Homo sapiens: one gene and its partner. The protein of the gene in region 1 purifies or fractionates together with the protein of each later gene. This does not show direct contact. Each region holds a gene or a part of one and is shown on either strand. Other genes may lie near its edges.

The links.
Region 2: the proteins of STAC (region 1) and ANKLE2 purify together in Homo sapiens (affinity purification with mass spectrometry; 3 studies listed by BioGRID and IntAct, with this or other methods). This does not show direct contact.

What each region holds. Positions count from the first base shown.
Region 1 is NC_000003.12:36,382,795-36,391,867, forward strand, and holds part of STAC (SH3 and cysteine-rich domain-containing protein), read left to right. Parts: intron 1-9,073. UniProt on the Homo sapiens protein: Promotes expression of the ion channel CACNA1H at the cell membrane, and thereby contributes to the regulation of channel activity.
Region 2 is NC_000012.12:132,751,093-132,760,165, reverse strand, and holds part of ANKLE2 (ankyrin repeat and LEM domain-containing protein 2), read left to right. Parts: intron 1-5,032; coding exon 5,033-5,491; intron 5,492-9,073. UniProt on the Homo sapiens protein: Involved in mitotic nuclear envelope reassembly by promoting dephosphorylation of BAF/BANF1 during mitotic exit.

The DNA of each region.
Region 1 (9,073 bases):
CCACATGTTAAAGCTTACTGGCGTTTACAAGGATCTTTGACCCTGAGCATGAGAGCTTGGTGAGGAAAATGTGAACAAGACAGTAATATGCATTCCATCTTACTCTTCCATGAAGTGGTCTTGTTTGTAAAATATCTTGTGGGACAAACATGGTTCAGGCCCCCTTGGCATTAAACTCTCTCAAGGAAGACTTAAAGTTACTTTTTTTAAAGAGTTAGGTTTTTTTGTCTTATTATAAGAGTAACAAATACTCTTTGTAGATATTTGAACAGTCCAGACATAAATGATGAAAAGAAAAATAAATTAGCTCTTGGTTTACCATCCAGAAGCATCTACTAATAAAACTTTGATCTATATCTCATGTCTTTTTAAATCTGTTTATATATTTACATAGTTGAGCGAGAACAATAGTGAGCATCTACTGAATGTTTACTGTAAGTCAGATACAACCTTAATCTTCACAATAGAAGATTCTGTTAATATTTCTATTTTATGGATGGGGAAGTGGAAGCCAAGAAAGGTTAGATCATTTTCACTGTGAAAATTTATTATGGAAAATTTTAATATACACAAAAGTAGAGAAAACAGTATAAAGAACTGTCATGGACCTAATCATGTGGCTTCACAATTAATTCATGGACAGTATTGTTTTATGTATTACCACCACCACCACCACCCTACACATACTGGATCATTTTAAAGCAAATTCCAGACATGAAATAACTTCACCCGTAAATATGCTATCAGGTTACATCTCTCAAGGATAAGGGTTATTTTCATTTTATTTTCATAAACATGACTATAATCCCAATTAGCACATATTTCAGGTGTTTTAAGCTAAGGGCCACTATATTCTTTAGAAGCCCACAAATAGTCTTTGGAAAATCTGTGAACAACCCGAACCAGCATTCAAAGTTGTCCATGTACATGCATATATGCATCATCTAGGGAAAGAATTTATAGCTTATCTCAGGTTCACAAAGGGTCTATAGCTTCAAAGGTTATCTTAATGTCCTTTTTCTCTTTCTTGAGGAAATTGAGGCCCAAAAAGGGGCAGTGACTTGCCTGAGATCACACAGATAGTTACTGGCAATACCCTTACCTACAAACCCCGTCTTGGACTTTGGTATCCCAGTACAGTTTCCTCAGAGCAAATTTCTGTAAGCACAAGTCATAATATAGTTTAATGTAATTGTGGGTTTTCTTCTTTATGAAATTAGTTGAGTTGAATAAGTTTGAAAGCCACTGATGTATCATACCCTTCTATCTTCCCACTAACTATTTCAGAAAGATGACAGCCTAATTTATTTTTTAAGGGCTTGACAGAGACCATTGAATATAAACAAAAATTTCATGTCCCATTATCCCTTATTTCAATGAATATCTTTTCTCCTACTGACTTATTGACAACATAGAAAGCTTGCTAGTGTCTAATGTGAAGGTTTGCTATAAATCTCTTTGTCATCACTTATATGACACAAGGTCACATTTTGATGATATTGAGGAATCACACCTCAATATCATCAATATCAAAGGTGAGATTGACACACCTCTGTGAACATGCCTAATACCTCAAAGCCTCAGCTTCCTCATGGGGATGCTGATGGGGCTGCTACTACCCAATTGGTGTGCTTTTTGTAAGGCCTAAGAATATGTAATACACCTAATATGTTTGTTATAAGCATACACAAACATAAACCATTATTTATTTTCTCTATTTGTTTCAAATCAGATGACTGCTACCACCAGCCAACCCCAAATGTCATCATTGGAATAATTTCAATAACCACAACTGACATTACCATAATGTAACTGAGTTTACCTCTTTGGGCTTTTAGTTATGCTAATTGATTACAATGAGACTTCACTTCAGCTATTTTGCATCCCCAAGAAGATAAGACATAGACTCACCAGCATGTGATTTAGATTTTGAAATGGTGCTATAAGCCACCCAGTGCCCTAGTGGAGCCACGGACCAAAGTGACCCTCATTCCTGGAGGATTATTTCTGAACCTGGACCACAATCCAACCTATGAAAAAGAAATCTCTAACCATGAAGACGTGCCCTGAATCTCCCAGAAAGATTTCTGTGTCCATCTATCAGCAATTATTTATTGAGTGCCTACTTTGTGCCCAGCATATCTCATACATATATGTGAAGCTGTTATTAATAAGGAATTTAACTTCTATTCAGGGAAGAAGATGAAAGAAAACGAAACCTTGGCTTTGCATTGAAATCACCAAGGGAACCCAGGCCATAGGCTAGAACCACTAAGTTGAAATCTCTGAGAGAGATCTCAAGCATCAGTATTTTCTATACAGATGCCCACTGAAAACAGAATTAGAATAGTGTATACATAAACCCAAGTTTTGCTTTTTCTTCCACCTAATGTTATACGTAGTCTTCCTATACTTTTAAGTAACCAACCACACAAATATTGAAGATAGCCTAATATTCCATTTCATTGTTCTACCACATCAATTTCAGCAGTCCCTTCTGATTTCATATTTAGGTTCTTTCCCAGATTTCATACATTTAAAAAATATTAAAATATACATTCCAATGCATAAATATTTGTATATGTTTCTGATCAGTTTCATGACAAATAGAATTAACTAGGTCTGAGTATAAACACTTCTAAGGTATTTTATTCTCATAACCACAGTGACCTCAGAAAAAGTTGTATTATAGTCTTTTTTTTAGTAAACTTTTCATCAAAGTACAACATCATCCCCAAAACTGCACATATTAAAAGTTTATAGCTTGATGAATTTTCAAAAAGATAAACTCTTGACCTTTGTGTGACCACCTCATAAATCACAAAAAGAATATTACTGACACCCCAGAATCTCTCTCATACCCCTTTCTAATCACTAACCTCCTAAAGGTAAATAGTATCCTCACTCTAACAACATAAATTATTTGCTCATTTCTGAACTTTTGATAAATTGAATCATACAATATTTTATGCCTGACTTCTTTCACTCAACATTATGTTGAAATTATCTGTGCCATTGTAGGTAGCAATAGTTTTCATTTTTATTACCATATAACATTCCATTGTATGAATGGAACACAGTTTATTTACCTACTCTACTGATGATGGACATTTGGATTGTTTCTTGTTTTGGGCTGCTATAAGCCATACTGCTATGAACATTCCTTATATATATTCTTTGTGGCACATATGAAGCTCTTCTATTGGGTATATACCTAGAAGTGGCATTTCTGGCTTATAGGGTATACACATGTTCAGCTTTAACATACTTTTCAAAATGGCTGTACCACTTCATATTCCTGCCAGCAATGTATAAGACTTCAATCCACTCTTTGTGCTACCATCGTTTCATATTATCTTTCTCATTTTGGCCATCTAATAAGCAATTAATGGTATTGCAATGTGGTTTTAACTTGTATTTCCCCAATGACTAATAAGCTTAGCAGTTTTTACATGTTTATGGCATTTGATGTCTTCTTATGTAGTTGTTCAAGTCTTTTGCCATTTTTCTATTGGGTTATTTGCTTCTTATTAATTTGTAGGGGTTCTTCTCATATTCTGGATATGAGAACGTTGAGAGAAAAAATGTATTGCAGATATTCTCTTCTACACTGAAAAAAAAAAGGCTTACCTTTTTTCTTCTTCACTGAAATTCCTAATTTAATGTAGTCTAATTCTTACATTTTTCTCTTCTATGGTTGTGCTTTTTGTGTACTGCTTATGAAATCTTTGCCTATTCCAAAGTCATTTAGATATTCTATTATTATTTTCTAGAATTGTTATTATTTGCCTTTCACAGGTGGATTTACAATTCATTTGGAATTGCTTTTTTGGTATGGTGTGAGGTAAGGGTCAAGATTCATTTTGACTATGCCACTTTTGCTATCCATAAATAATTTGACTGTATATGTGCAAGTTTCTATTCTGCCCATTGGCCTCTTTGTCTAACCTTCTACCAGTACAGCACTGTCTTAAATGTAATGATTTTATTTAAAAGGTCTTGATATCTGGTAGCGTAAGCCCTGGAGCTTTGCTCTTCTTTTTCAAAACAGATTTGAGTTATTTTTGATTCCTTGCATTTCCACGTGCACTTTGGAATCACCTGATCAATTTGCACAAAAACACCTGCTGGGATTCTGAATGGAACTGCATTGAATCTATAAATCCATGTGGAGAGAATGGGCATGTTCTCACTCCAGAGTATTTGCTTTTGTCAAGTCCCCTAAGACATCATTGAGAGGAACCAAATTTTGTTACTTTTTCAGTTTGGGGTTTACCAAACCAACTTTTGCTGTCTAAATTCAAGCCTCAAATCTATGTGAGGGCAGATCCATGAATAAGAATTCCAAGATAAATATTTTATATTTACTTATTTATTTTTGTCCACCTTAAGACTAAACTAAGATTTCTTTATCATCAACCTGAGTTGGTAAGAATTTTGTTTCTAGTTCATTTTTTTCCTTCTTTTTTAGATTCTACTCCACGTAGACATCAAAACCAACCTAGGTTTTTCTTGACTGTGGTAAAATATGCGTAATGTAAAGTTTACCATTTTAACCATTTTTAAGTGTACAGTTCTACGGCATTAAGTACATTCACACTGTTGTGCAGCCATAACCACCACTCATCTCCAGAACATCTTTATCATCTCCAACTGTAACTCTGTACCCATTCAACATTAATTACTAATTCCCCATCCCCTTCTTTCCCCAGTCTCTGGCAACTACCATTTTCCTTTTTATCTATATGAATTTGACTATTCCGGGTTTACCATATAAGAGAAATCATATAATATTTGTCCTTTTGTGATTGAATTATTTCAGTTAGCATAATGTCTTCACAGCTCATCTATGTTGTGGCATGTATCAGAATTCCCTTCTTTTTTAAGCTGAATAATATCCCATTGTATATATATACTACATTTTGTTTATCCATTAATGCATCAGTGAATACTTGGGCTGTTTCTACCTTTTAGCTACTCTGAATAATGCTGCTATGAAGTGGGTGTGCAAATACTTGTTGAAGTCCCCTCTTTCATTTCTTATGGGTATATAACCAGAAGTGCAATTGCTGGATCATCTGGTGATTCTATGTTTAATTTTTTGAGAAATTGCCATCCTATTTTCCACAGTGGTCGCACAGTTTTGGATTCTGACGAGTAATGCACAAGGATTCCAGTTTCTCTGCATCCTCACCAATACTTGTTATTTTCTGGGTTTTGTTGATCCTGATGGGTACAAGATGGTATCTCATGTTTAGTGATGTAGATCATGTTTTTATGTGCTTATAGGTTATTTGTATATCTTCTTTGGAGAAATATCTAGTCAAGGCCTTCGTCCATTTTAAAATTAGATTGTTTGGTTTTTGTTGTTGGATTGTAGTATTATAGCTTTCTAACCAGCAAATTTGAATGATGCAGAAGTATTGAATTTTATTATCATTTTACTTACATTTATTCATCGAAAGGGTTATTTTTCATGCCTTTTTATTACTTGTCTTTTTTGGTATGTGAATTATCTGTTCATGTCCTTGTCCATTTTAATACTGTTTTTTCATTTCCTATTGGTTTTAAAAAATTATTTATAAATATTAAATTCAACCTTTCAGATACATTGCTAACATTTTCCCAGATTGAAATTTGTCTTTTTTCAATTCTATTACATTTTCAATGTAGAAGTTTCCTTTTTTATGGTTTTAAATGTCTCAAATTTATTTAGCTATGTTTTCTTCTTTTCAATTATATTTAGAAAGGACTTCCCAACCCTGAGAACAGAAAAATAAAATAACCTGTATCATTTCTCTAGATCCTCAATATGTACTTTTTGCTTTTATCATTTTCATCCATCTGGAATTTATATCATTATGTAGTATGAAGAAATCTATTTTTTCCCAAATGATGAATCAGTATTTCTAAAACCATTTGTTGAATAATTTATTCTTTTTTCACTGATTTGAAATTTTACGTTTTTTATGTAATAAATGGTAATATGTATTAGATTCTCTTTTAGAGTTATCTGTCATATTCTAATGTTTTGTAACTTTATTTTTGCACTTATTATTGTACTGTACTCTTGCATGACTATTATGCTTCAATTTTTGTAGCTTAATAATAGAGTTTGATAATTAATAATACAAGTACCCTCTTGGAAGTTTTATATTTATCTGCACTCAACTTTTCGTTTTCTACCAAATTATAAAAACAATATTTTGAAAGCAATTTCATGAAACTCCTAATATTATTTCAGTGAAATCTTTACAATTATGAGATTTCTTATCCAAAAACATAGTATATCTGTAGTTATTGAAACGCCTGTCTTTTATGCCTCTCATAAATGCTTGAAATTGTCCTCAAATATTTCCTGCCAAAATTCTTTGTTAGCTATTTTCCAACTGTCTTGGTCCATTCAGGCTGCTAAAACAAAATGTCATAAACTGGGTTTATAAACAACAGAAATGTATCTGTCACAGTTGTAGAAGCTGGAAAATCCAAGATCAAGGCATCAGCAGAGGGCCTGTTTCCTGGTTTATAGATGGAATCCTGTAGCTGTGTTGTCTCATGGTGGAAGGGGCAAGGTAGTGCTCTGAGGCCTCTTTATAAGGGCACTAATCCGAATCATGAAGGCTCTGCCCTCATGTCCTAATCACCTCCCAAAGCCCTCGCCTTTTAATACCGTCATACTGGTGGATTAATTTTCAACAAATGAATTTCAGGGGAACACAAACATTAAGAACATAGCACACAGTATTTTATACTCTGACTTACTATTATGAATTACCATTTTTATATTTTTTAACTGGTGATAGCTGGCACATAAGAAATTCATTTTTATATTAATTTTATAATCTAAAATCATTTATATTCCATTTCTTATCCATTAGTAAAGAAATACAATGTTGCTTACTAGTTCAGAGCATGGGCACAGACACAGCCATGTTCAAATCCCATTGTGCCAGTTTAGGATGCCACTTAACAAGCTTTCCTGTCCCTCACTTCCCAGAGATTCACTGTGCTTTCCATAAAGTGAGCATAATAATGTCCTCTGCAGCATTGCCATTCAAGTTAATTAGTGTATGTAAAGTGCTTAACACAGAGCCTGGCATATAGCAAGCAAATTCAGATTATCATAATATGTGAAATAATAATTTTGCCTCTGTAACTATAATTCTCTTTCATTTGGGGGGGAAGGGAGTGCAGTGGGTAGGGACAGGGGTTTATTGCTGGAGAACTTCCAAAAGTATGGTAAATATTAGAGAGATACCAGGCTGGCACATGACTTAACTTTAAATGCCACTAGTGTTTTACTATACATGTAGTATTGTACAGTATTGGTGCTGACAGGTGGCCTTAGCTCTCCTGTAAACCACTAGCCACTCTAGAAGCCACCAAAAGTACTTATACAGCCTGAGAAAAATCATGTGGTGCACTGCAAATTCAACTTAAAGACAAATCCATTTCCAACTAAGTCATTCCTTAAGATCCCCTTCTACACAAATTCCAGACATCCCACTCATGTTCACAATTAAACTAAGACAGTCTTTCTCATTTTAAAGATAGGTCGTGTTCCTAGCTTATGAAGAATTTCCATCAGGAATAGATGTGAAATTGTTTCAGATGACTTTTTGGCAAGTATGGAAGTAATCATGTGATTTTTCTTTTCTTTTTTTTTTTTTTTTTTTTTGTCCTTTGGTCTCTTTATCTGATGGATTATATTAATAGATATCCTAATATTAAACTCTTATTACAGTCCTGGAACAAGTCCTGCTTGGCCATGGGGATTTTCTTTTAATAAACTCCCGGGTTTTGATTGCCAATGCTTTATTATTTTTACATCCACATACATAAGGGAGATTGTTCGATAACTGTCACTTTTGTGTTCTTGGTCAGATTTTATTTTTAAGGCTATGCCAAGTTTCAGAAAATGAATTGGGAACATGTCCATGAATGTTTTTATTTTGTTTTTGTATTTTTATGTATGGAACATTTTATGGAACCCACAAATAATACTCTCTTTGAATGTTTAAAAAAATGCCAATAATATCTAAACCTGTCACCTATCTTAAAACAAAATTTGAAAATTTTTTTCCATTATTAAATTCTATTCCTTTTTTCCTAAATTGGCTTGAGTCAGATTTGTTAACTTGTATTTTACCAGAAAATTATCCATTTTACTTAAATCTTCATAAGATCTCCAGATGGGTTATAGGAGGACAGCCCTGGGAACTTCCTTCAGTCTCGTCCCATCTTCCCTCTCTCTGGCAGGATTCCCATGAATTCCATCATGTTCATACCCTCTTTTATACTTCTCTATTTCTGTGTAACACTGATTCCTTAGATCTGGATTTGAAATCAGAAGCATTAAGCACAAGTGCTCACATCTCCACCTTACCAAAAGAAAGGATCCCTTGCTCCCTCTTTCAATCTCTCACTCTTACTTGGTTCCCCTTTTACTGCTATAGAAGTTGCTCTTTGATCCCACTGGCAATCTGTCCTCTGCCCATCTTTCAAATATTGTTCTTCCCCAGCATTCTGTTTTTCACCCGCAGCCCTTCTCATGCTTCATAATCTCTCTGGGCTAAATCTTACTTCTTATCATTTCATCCACCAGCTGAAAACTCCTAAATCTGCATCCAACCCAGACATCACTCTAGTGATCGCCAGACCAATATATCCTGCTGCCCTTTGGACAGTCTCTGTTGATGCCCACATCTTAAATTCAAGCTACCCTCAATGGAATTTATCATTCTTGATTCAGCTGTCACCCCGTTTCTTCTTCTGTGCTCTCTTTGTTGTTAATTTGTTTTTTCTCATGTGCTCTTCTGCTGATGAGCTCCTCCATAGAGAAGCATCATCCATGGTGTCAACCAATCCGGAAAACCAGAAGCCCTTGATGATCCTGAGCGGGGCGGGCTAAGCAGGGAAGAAGCTGTTTGGCAGCAGGTAGAGAGAAGACAAGATGTCTTGCAGCTCCCAGAGCATGCTTCATTTGTCTGAAAATGAAACATATACCTGTTGCCTGTTTCTAATGGCCCTCATAGCTGAAGTTACAGCCAGCATGTTTTTCTCAGGTCTGGAA
Region 2 (9,073 bases), on another chromosome or scaffold:
CGGCCCTACCACTTTTTTTTTTTTTTTTTTTTGAAATGTAGTCTCGCCCTGTGGCCCAGGCTGGAGTGCAGTGGCGCGATCTCGGCTCACTGCAAGCTCCGCCTCCCGGGTTCAAGCGATTCTCCTGCATCAGCCTCCCGAGTAGCTGGGATTACAGGCGCCTGCCACCACGCCCGGCTAATTTTTGTATTTTTAATAGAGACGGGGTTTCACCATGTTGGCCAGGATGGTCTCGAATTCCTGACCTCAGGTGATCCACCTGCCTCAGCTTCCCAAAATGCTGGGATTACAGGTGTGAGCCATCGCACCGGGCCCTACCACTTATTGCTGTGGGCTTAACCTGTTTTCAGCCTGCTCTTTTAGGAATGGGGATGATAGTGATACCTGGTTAGGCTTTTTTGGGAGTTGGGTAAGTGCAGCACTTGGTATGTGTTAAGCACCTCTGAGTGCTGTTACTGTCACCAGCGGCATCATCCAGGCAGAGCTGCGGACAAGGTGGCGGCGGGTGAGGGTGGTGTTTTGAGAATGGCTGAAATAAAAAAATACTGATTTATTTTATATAAAAATATGTTTTTATATATGATGTATAATATACGTATATCATGGCATATGATACGTGTATATCATATAGCACATATAGTATACATATATATAGTCAGCAGAGATTTAGAGAAACTGGGCCTCGTGCATTGCAGGTGGGGACGGTAAGTGGTGCAGCTACTCTGGGAATCAGCCTGGCAGGTTTTTAGGAAGTTAAACCTGCCCTGCATTCCTGAGCTTTTATTAGACAAATGAAAACTATTTTCACACAAAAACCCATATTTAATGTTCATAGCAACTTTATTTGTAATTACCAGAAACTGAAATAACTCAAATGGTTAAACTTGCACACTGATACCCCGGGGTGCCACTCCGCAGCGATCCTCTCTGCCACGTGGGTGCCCCGGGGTGCCACTCTGCATGATCCACTCTGCCACGTGGGTGCCCCGGGGTGCCACTCCGCAGCGATCCTCTCTGCCACGTGGGTGCCCCGGGGTGCCACTCTGCGTGATCCACTCTGCCACGTGGGTGCCCCGGGGTGCCACTCCGCAGCGATCCTCTCTGCCACGTGGGTGCCCCGGGGTGCCACTCCGCAGCGATCCACTCTGCCACGTGGGTGCCCCGGGGTGCCACTCCGCAGCGATCCTCTCTGCCACGTGGGTGCCCCGGGGTGCCACACTGCGTGATCCACTCTGCCACGTGGGTGCCCCGGGGTGCCACTCCGCAGCGATCCACTCTGCCACGTGGGTGGATCTCAAGGGCATTATGCTGAATAGGAAAAGCCAGTCTCAAAAGTTGTGTACTTGGCCGGTTGCGGTGGCTCATGCCTGTAATCCCAGCACTTTGGGAGGCCGAGGCAGGTGGATCACAAGGTCAGGAGTTCAAGATCAGCCTGGCCAACATGGTGAGGCAGTCTCCACTAAAAATACAAAAAAATAGCGGGGCGTGGTGGCAGGTACCTGTAATCCCAGCTACTCGGGAGGCTGAGGCAGCAGAATTGCTTGAACCCAGGAGGTGGAGGTTGCGGTGAGCAGAGATCGTGCCACTGCACTCCAGCCTGGGCGACAGAGCAAGACTCCATCTCAAAAAAAAAAAAATTGTTAATGGAACATTATAACCCAGTGTTCAGACCTAGCTGTTTCTCACATCTTTACCCATCGATCTGTCAAAGACCTTGTGATCATACTGATACTTCCAATTTCAATGCGACGTCCGCGGGTTTATTCTTTTTTTTTTAGGTGGAGTCTCACTCTGTTGTCCAGGCTGGAGACTCACTGCAACCTCTGCCTGCCCAGTTCAAGCGATTCTCCCACCTAGCCTGCTGAGTAGCTGGGATGACAGGTGCATGCCACCATGCCTGGCTAATTTTTGTGTTTTTAGTAGACACCTGGTTTCATCATGTTGGCCAGGCTGGTCTCAAACACCTGACCTCAAATGATCCATGCACCTTGGCCTCCCAAAGTGCTGGGATTACCAGCATGAGCCACCGTGTCCGGCTCCCTGGCTTTATTCTAATGCAAGAGTCAGTAAACTGTGGTCCAAACTGGCCCCCACCTATTTTCCTTAGTAAAGTTTTATTGGAATACAACCATACCCTTTTGTTTATGTATATCTGTGGCTGTTCTTTTTTTTTTTTTTTTTGGAGACGGGGTCTTGCTCTGTTGCCCAGGTTGGAGTGCAGTGGCACAAACAGGGCTCACTGCATCCTCAAACTCTTAGGCTTAATTTATCCTCCTTCCTCAGCCCCCCAAGTAGTTGGAACCACAGGTGCACGTCACCACACTCAGCTAATTTTTTTTTTTTGAGACGGAGTCTCGCTCTGTCGCCCAGGCTGGAGTGCAGTGCCGCCATCTCTGCTCACTGCAAGTTCTGCCCCCTGGGTTCACACCATTCTCCTGCCTCAGCCTCCTGAGTAGCTGGGACTACAGGCGCCCGCCACCATGGCCGGCTAATTTTTTAGTATTTTTAGTAGAGACAGGGTTTCACCGTGTTTGCCAGGATAGTCTCAATCTCCTGACCTCATGATCCACCTGCCTCGGCCTCCCAAAGTGCTGGGATTACAGGCATGAGTCACCGCGCCCAGCCATCAGATAATTTTTAAAGTTTTTGTAGAAAGGGTGTCGCTGTGTTACCCAGGCTGGTCTTGAACTCCTGGGCTCAAGTGATCTTCCCGCCTCGGCCTCCCCAAGCGCTGGGGTGACAGGTGTGAGCCGCCACACGCGGCCTGTGGCTGTTCTGAGCACTCACGTGGCCTTTGGCTCATAGAGTCTGAGATGCTTACTCTCTCGCCCTTTACAGGAATCGTTTGCTGAAACCCTGTTCTCACTCCCACTTTCCTTTCTGTCATTGAGAGTCCTGGCTCTCATCAGCCACCGTGTATTCCAATTATTTGCTTTGCCCTAGAGTCCACAGAAAATAGCTTTAGGTGTGTTAACCTATACCATTGTGAAAACATCTACTGCCTAGAGCCTGTTCACACGGTAATGGTGCACAGTCCTTTTTGTCTTTCTCCTTAGAGCACCTAGTCACTCACTGTTTTCCAAAGTTACGTAGGTTAGCTTCCCCTGTGTTACTCACTTGTAATACAGTTAGGTGCATTTCTTCTGGCTAGTATTCCATGTGGGTGTCTCCCCCATCTTTTTGTTTATTTACTTATTTCTTTTTTTTTTGTTTTTTTTGTTGTTGTTGTTTTATTGAGGTGGAGTCTCGCTCTGTTGCCCAGGCTGGAGTGTAGTGGTGCGATCTCGGCTCACTGTGACCTCTGCCTCCTGGGTTCCAGCGAGTCTCCTGCCTCAGGTTCCCGAGTAGCTGGGATTACAGGTGCCCGCCACTGCGCCTGTCTAATTTTTGTATTTTTTTTTTAGTAGAGATGGGGTTTCACCATCTTGGCCAGGCTGGTCTCGAACTGCTGACCTCGTGATCCACCCACCTCGGTCTCCCAAAGTGCTGCGATTACAGGCGTGAGCCACCGCACCCGGCTTTACTTATTTGAGTATGTAAATCACGAACATGTTTTTAAAAGTCAGAACCCTGTAGAAACTTAAATTCAGATGTATTACTCCCCCCCGCCATCTTTTTTTTTGTTGTTGTTGTTGAGACAGGGTCTGATTCTGTCACCCAGGCTGGAGTGCAGGGTTGCCATCTCAGCTCGTGGTGGCATCCACCTCCCAGGCTCAAGTGATCCTCCTGCCTCAGCCCCCTGAGTAGCTGGGGCTGTAGGTGTGCACTACTATGCTCGGGTAATTTTTTTTTTTTGAAACAAGGTCTTGCTCTTGTCCCCTAGGCTGGAGTGCAGTGGCGTGATTTCGGCTCACTGCAACCTCCACCTACTGGGTTCAAGCAATTCTCTTGCCTCAGCCTCCCGAGTAGCTGGGGTTACAGGCATGTACCACCACGCCCGGCTAATTTTTGTATTTTTAGTAGAGACAGGGTTTCACCATGTTGGCCAGGCTGGTCTCGAACTCCCGACCTCAGGTGATCTGCCTGCCTCCCAAAGAATACAACGGGCTGGGCATGGTGGCTTATGCCTGTAATCCCAGCACTTTGGGAGGTTGGGAGTTCAAGACCAGCCTGACCAACATGGAGAAACCCCGTCTCTACTAAAAGTACAAAATTAGCTGGGCGTGGTGGTGCACGCCTGTAATCCCAGCTACTCGGGAGGCTTGAGGCAGGAGAACCGCTTGAACCCAGGAGGCAGAGGTTGCAGTGAGCTGAGATCGCACCACTGCACTCCAGCCTGCCTGGTGACAGAGCGAGACTCCGTCTCAAAAAGAAAAAAGGCTCACGCCTGTAATCCAAACACTTTGGGAGGCCAAGGCAGGTGGATCACCTGAGGTCGGGAGTGCAAGACCAACCTGGCCAACATGGTGAAACCCCGTCTCTCCTAAAAATACAAAAATTAGCTAGGTGTGATTCCAGGCGCCTGTAGTCCCAGCTACTTGGGAGGCTGAGGCTGGAGAATCACTTGAACTCAGGAGGTAGAGGTTGCAGTGAGCTGCGATAGCACCACTGCACTCCAGCCTGTGCGACAGAGGGAGACACCATCTCGAAAAAAAAAAGAAAAATTCTTTTTTTTTTTTTGAGCTGGAGTTTCGCTCTTGTTGTCTAAGCTGGAGTGCAGGGGTGTGATCTCGGCTAATTGCAGCCTCCGCCTCCTGGGTTCAAGCGATTCTCCAGCCTCAGCCTCCCAAGTAGCTGGGATTACAGGCATCCGCCACCACACCCGGCTAATTTTTTGTATTTTCAGTAGAGACGTGGTTTCACCATGTTGGCCGGGCTGGTCTCGAACTCCTGACCTCAGATGATCCGCCCGCCTCAGCCTCCCAAAATGCTGGGATTACAGGCGTGAGCCACCGCGTCCAGCCAAGAAAAAAAGTTTTTAATGAAAGAAACAGAAACTGATGCCATTATATAATGAACCCTAGTACCCATCACCCAGCTTCAGCAGGTGTTAGTATTTTGTGACTCTTTGATTTTTTTGTCTTGGGCCTAGGTGAAATGACAATGGATGCTCTGTTGGCTCGATTGAAACTTCTGAATCCAGATGACCTTAGAGAAGAAATCGTCAAAGCCGGATTGAAATGTGGACCCATTACATCAACTACAAGGTTCATTTTTGAGAAAAAATTGGCTCAGGCTTTACTGGAGCAAGGAGGAAGGCTGTCTTCTTTCTACCACCATGAGGCAGGTGTCACAGCTCTCAGCCAGGACCCACAAAGGATTTTGAAGCCAGCTGAAGGGAACCCAACTGATCAGGCTGGTTTTTCTGAAGACAGAGATTTTGGTTACAGTGTGGGCCTGAATCCTCCAGAGGAGGAAGCTGTGACATCCAAGACCTGCTCGGTGCCCCCTAGTGACACCGACACCTACAGAGCTGGAGCGACTGCGTCTAAGGAGCCGCCCCTGTACTATGGGGTGTGTCCAGTGTATGAGGACGTCCCAGCGAGAAATGGTAATGGGACCGTGTGTAGGATTTCCTCACACAGATAGCACATACGCGGAGGGGCGGGATGACGTCTGAAAATGGAAAACTACAGATTAAGAAGGAAAAAATCCAATCCCCTCCATCTCATCACCCCAGTTAACCATTGTTAACATTTTTATGTAGAACTTTTCTGAAATATTTGTGAATTTAACATGAGAACTGTTAAAATTTGTGAGGTAAATTGGATTCTATGAGATATGCTGGACTGAGATATTAATATTAACTGGCTGCTGCTGTTGGTTAGGAACTTTGTTGATTAGTCATCTCCGCCTTTTTAAAATGCAGTGTAACCTGCACATCTTTTATGTTAATGAATGCAAATGGCCAATGAGTGTATAAATACTTTTCAGCATCAAAGATTTGTGGTTTTATTTTGTTTTTATTTATTTATTTATTTTTTGAGACAAAGTCTCACTCTGTTGCCCAGGCCAGAGTGCAGTGGCGTGATCTCAGCTCACTGCAACCTCTCCCCTCCCAGTTTAAGCGATTCTCCTGCCTCAGCCTCCTGAGTAGCTGGGATTACAGGCGCCTGCCACCGCGCCTGGCTAATTTTTTGTATTTTTAGTAGAGACGGGGTTTCACCATCTTGGCCAGGCTGGTCTTGAACTCCTGACCTCATGATCCACCTGCCTTGGCCTCCCAAAGTGCTGAGATTACAGGCTTGAGCCACCGCGCCTGGCCATTTTATTTTTTTAATTTATTCATTCATCTGAAACAGGGTGTTACTCTGCCACCTAGGCTGCATTGCAGTGGTGCAGTCACAGCTCACTGCAGCCTCAACCTTTCTGGCTCAGGTGATCCTCCCACCTCAGCCGCTTGAGTAGCTGGGACCACAGGCATACGCCACCACGCACAGCTAATTTTTATGGTTTTTTTTTGTTTTGTTTTGTTTTGTTTTTTTGAGACAGAGTCTCGCACTGTCACCTGGGCTGGAGTGCAGTGGTGCGATCTCAGCTCACTGTAACCTCAGCCTCCTGAGTAGCTGGGAACTACAGGCGCCCGCCACCATACCCAGCTAATTTTTTATTTTTTGTATTTTTAGTAGAGACAAGGTTTCGCGATTTTGGCCAAGCTGGTCTCGAACCCCTGACGTCGTGATCTGCCCACCTCGGCCTCCCAAAGTTCTGGGATTACAGGTGTGAGCCATCACGCCCAGCCAATTTTTGTATTTTTTATAGAGGCGGGGTTTCGCCACGTTGCCCACGCTTCTCTCGAACTGCCCTCAAGCGATCCACCCACCTTGGTCTCCCAAAGTGCTAAGATTACAGGCACACACCAGCACGCCTAGCTAATTGGTTGTTTTTGGTGGTTTTTTTTTTTGAGACTGGGGTCTCTCTCTCACCCAGGTTGGGGTGTAGTGATGCAATCTCAACAACTCACTGCAATGTCTGCCTACCAGGCTCAAGGAGTCCTCCCACCTCAGCCTCCGGAGTAGCTTGGGATCGCTGGGATCACGGGCACGTGCCAGTACGCGCCAGTTTTTTTGTATTCTTGGTAGAGACAATGTTTCCCCATGTTGCCCAGGCTGGTCTCCCAACTCCTGGGCTCAAGTGATCTGCCAGGCTCAGCCTCCCGAAGTGCTGGGATTACAGGCGTGAGCCACCTCGCCTGGCCACACCTAGGTAATTAAATTTTTTTTTTTTTTTTTAAGAGACTGGGTCTCGCTTTATTGCTTAGTCTGGTCTTGAACTCCTGGCTTCAAGCAGTCCTCCCACCTGAGCCTCCCAAAGTGCTGAGATTACAGGTGTGAGCCACTGTGCCCAGCCCAAGAATTGTAATTTTAAAGAAGATTTAGCATTGGAAAAAAGAAATGAGAACTCAGTATTAATTGGGATGCCAGAAATTGCACACTGTTATGAGTATTGTTATTACTGTGATACCATTTGTGGTGACGCCTATGAGTACATAATTGGTTAAACACTATGAATAGAATGGAATATTGTTCTGTAAGATCTTTTTAAAGAATACGTAGGGGCCGGGCGCGGTGGCTCACGCCTGTAATCCCAGCACTTTGGGAGGCCGAGGCAGGCAGATCACGAGGTCAGGAGATCGAGACCATCCTGGCTAACACGGTGAAGCCCCGTCTTTACTAAAAATACAGAAAATTAGCGGGGTGTGGTGGTGGGCACCTGTAGTCCCAGCTACTTAGGAGGCTGAGGTTGCAGTGAGCTGAGATTGTGCCACTGCATTCCAGCCTGAGCGACAGAGCTAGATTCCATCTCAAAAAAAAGAAAGTAACACTGGGAAATGATCATGGTGCAGTTTTTATTTTTATTATTTATTTATTTATTTACTTATTATTTGAGACAGAGTCCCGGTCTGTCGCCAGGCCGGAGTGCAGTGGTGCGATCTTGGCTCACTCCAACCTCTGCCTTTTGGGTTCCAGTGATTTTCCTGCTGCAGCCTCCCGAGTAGCTAGTACTACAGGGGTGTGCCACCACGCCCGGCTAATTTTATATTTTTAGTAGAGACAGGGTTTCTCCACGTTGGTCAGGCTGGTCTCAAACTCTCAACGTCAGGTGATCCACCTGCCTCAGCCTCCCAAAGTGCTGGGATTACAGGCGTGAGCCACCGTGCCCGAACTATGGCTATTTTTATCCAGTAGTGGACAGTAACCATTCGTCTGTTACATTGTTCATAAATTTTTGTCTCCTGGCCAGTAGTGTATATCTTATGTATTTACGATAGTCTCATACAAAACTTAATTGTGATAGTTCCACTACAGAGCTTTAATATTTTTATATAATCAGGATTATCTTGTTTTGAATGGTTTCTTGGCATGTTTAAAAAGGCATTCCCAGCCGGGTACAGTGGCTCATGCCTGTAATCCCAGCACTTTGGGAGGCTGAGGTGGGCAGGTCACCTAAGGTCAGGAGTTCAAGACTAGCCTGGCCAACATGGTGAAACCCCGTCTCTACTAAAAATACAACAATTAGCCAGGCATGGTGGCCGGTGCCTATAATCCCAGCTACACGGGAGGCTGAGACGGGAGAATCGCTTGGACCTGGGAGATGATGGTCGCAGTGAGCCAAGATCACACCACTGCACTCCAGCCTCGGCAGCTGAGTGAGACTCCATGTCAAAAAAAAACAGCCATTCCCGGCTGGGCGCCGTGGCTGACACCTGTAATCCCAGCACTCTGGGAGGCCGAGGCGGACAGATCACCTGAGGTCAGGAGTTTGAGACCAGCCTGGCCAACATGATGAAACCCCGTCTCTACTAAAAATACAAAAAATTAGGCATGGTGGCGGATGCCCATAATCCCAGCTACTCGGGAGGCTGAGGCGGGAGAATCGCTTGAACCTGGGAGGCAGAGGTTGCAAGAGCCAAGATCGTGCCACTGCACTTGAGCTTGAGCGACAGAGCGAGACTCCGTCTCCAAAAAAAAAAATAAAGTAAAAAATAAAAAGGCGTTCCCTGTTCAAAATTGTGTTTAAAATTCTCTTATGTTCTTGGCTGACATAATTATAGTTTTTTTTTTTAATTTGCCTTTTAATAATTTTTATTTAGATCTTTATATGAAATTTAGTTTTTAGGATAGAATCTTGG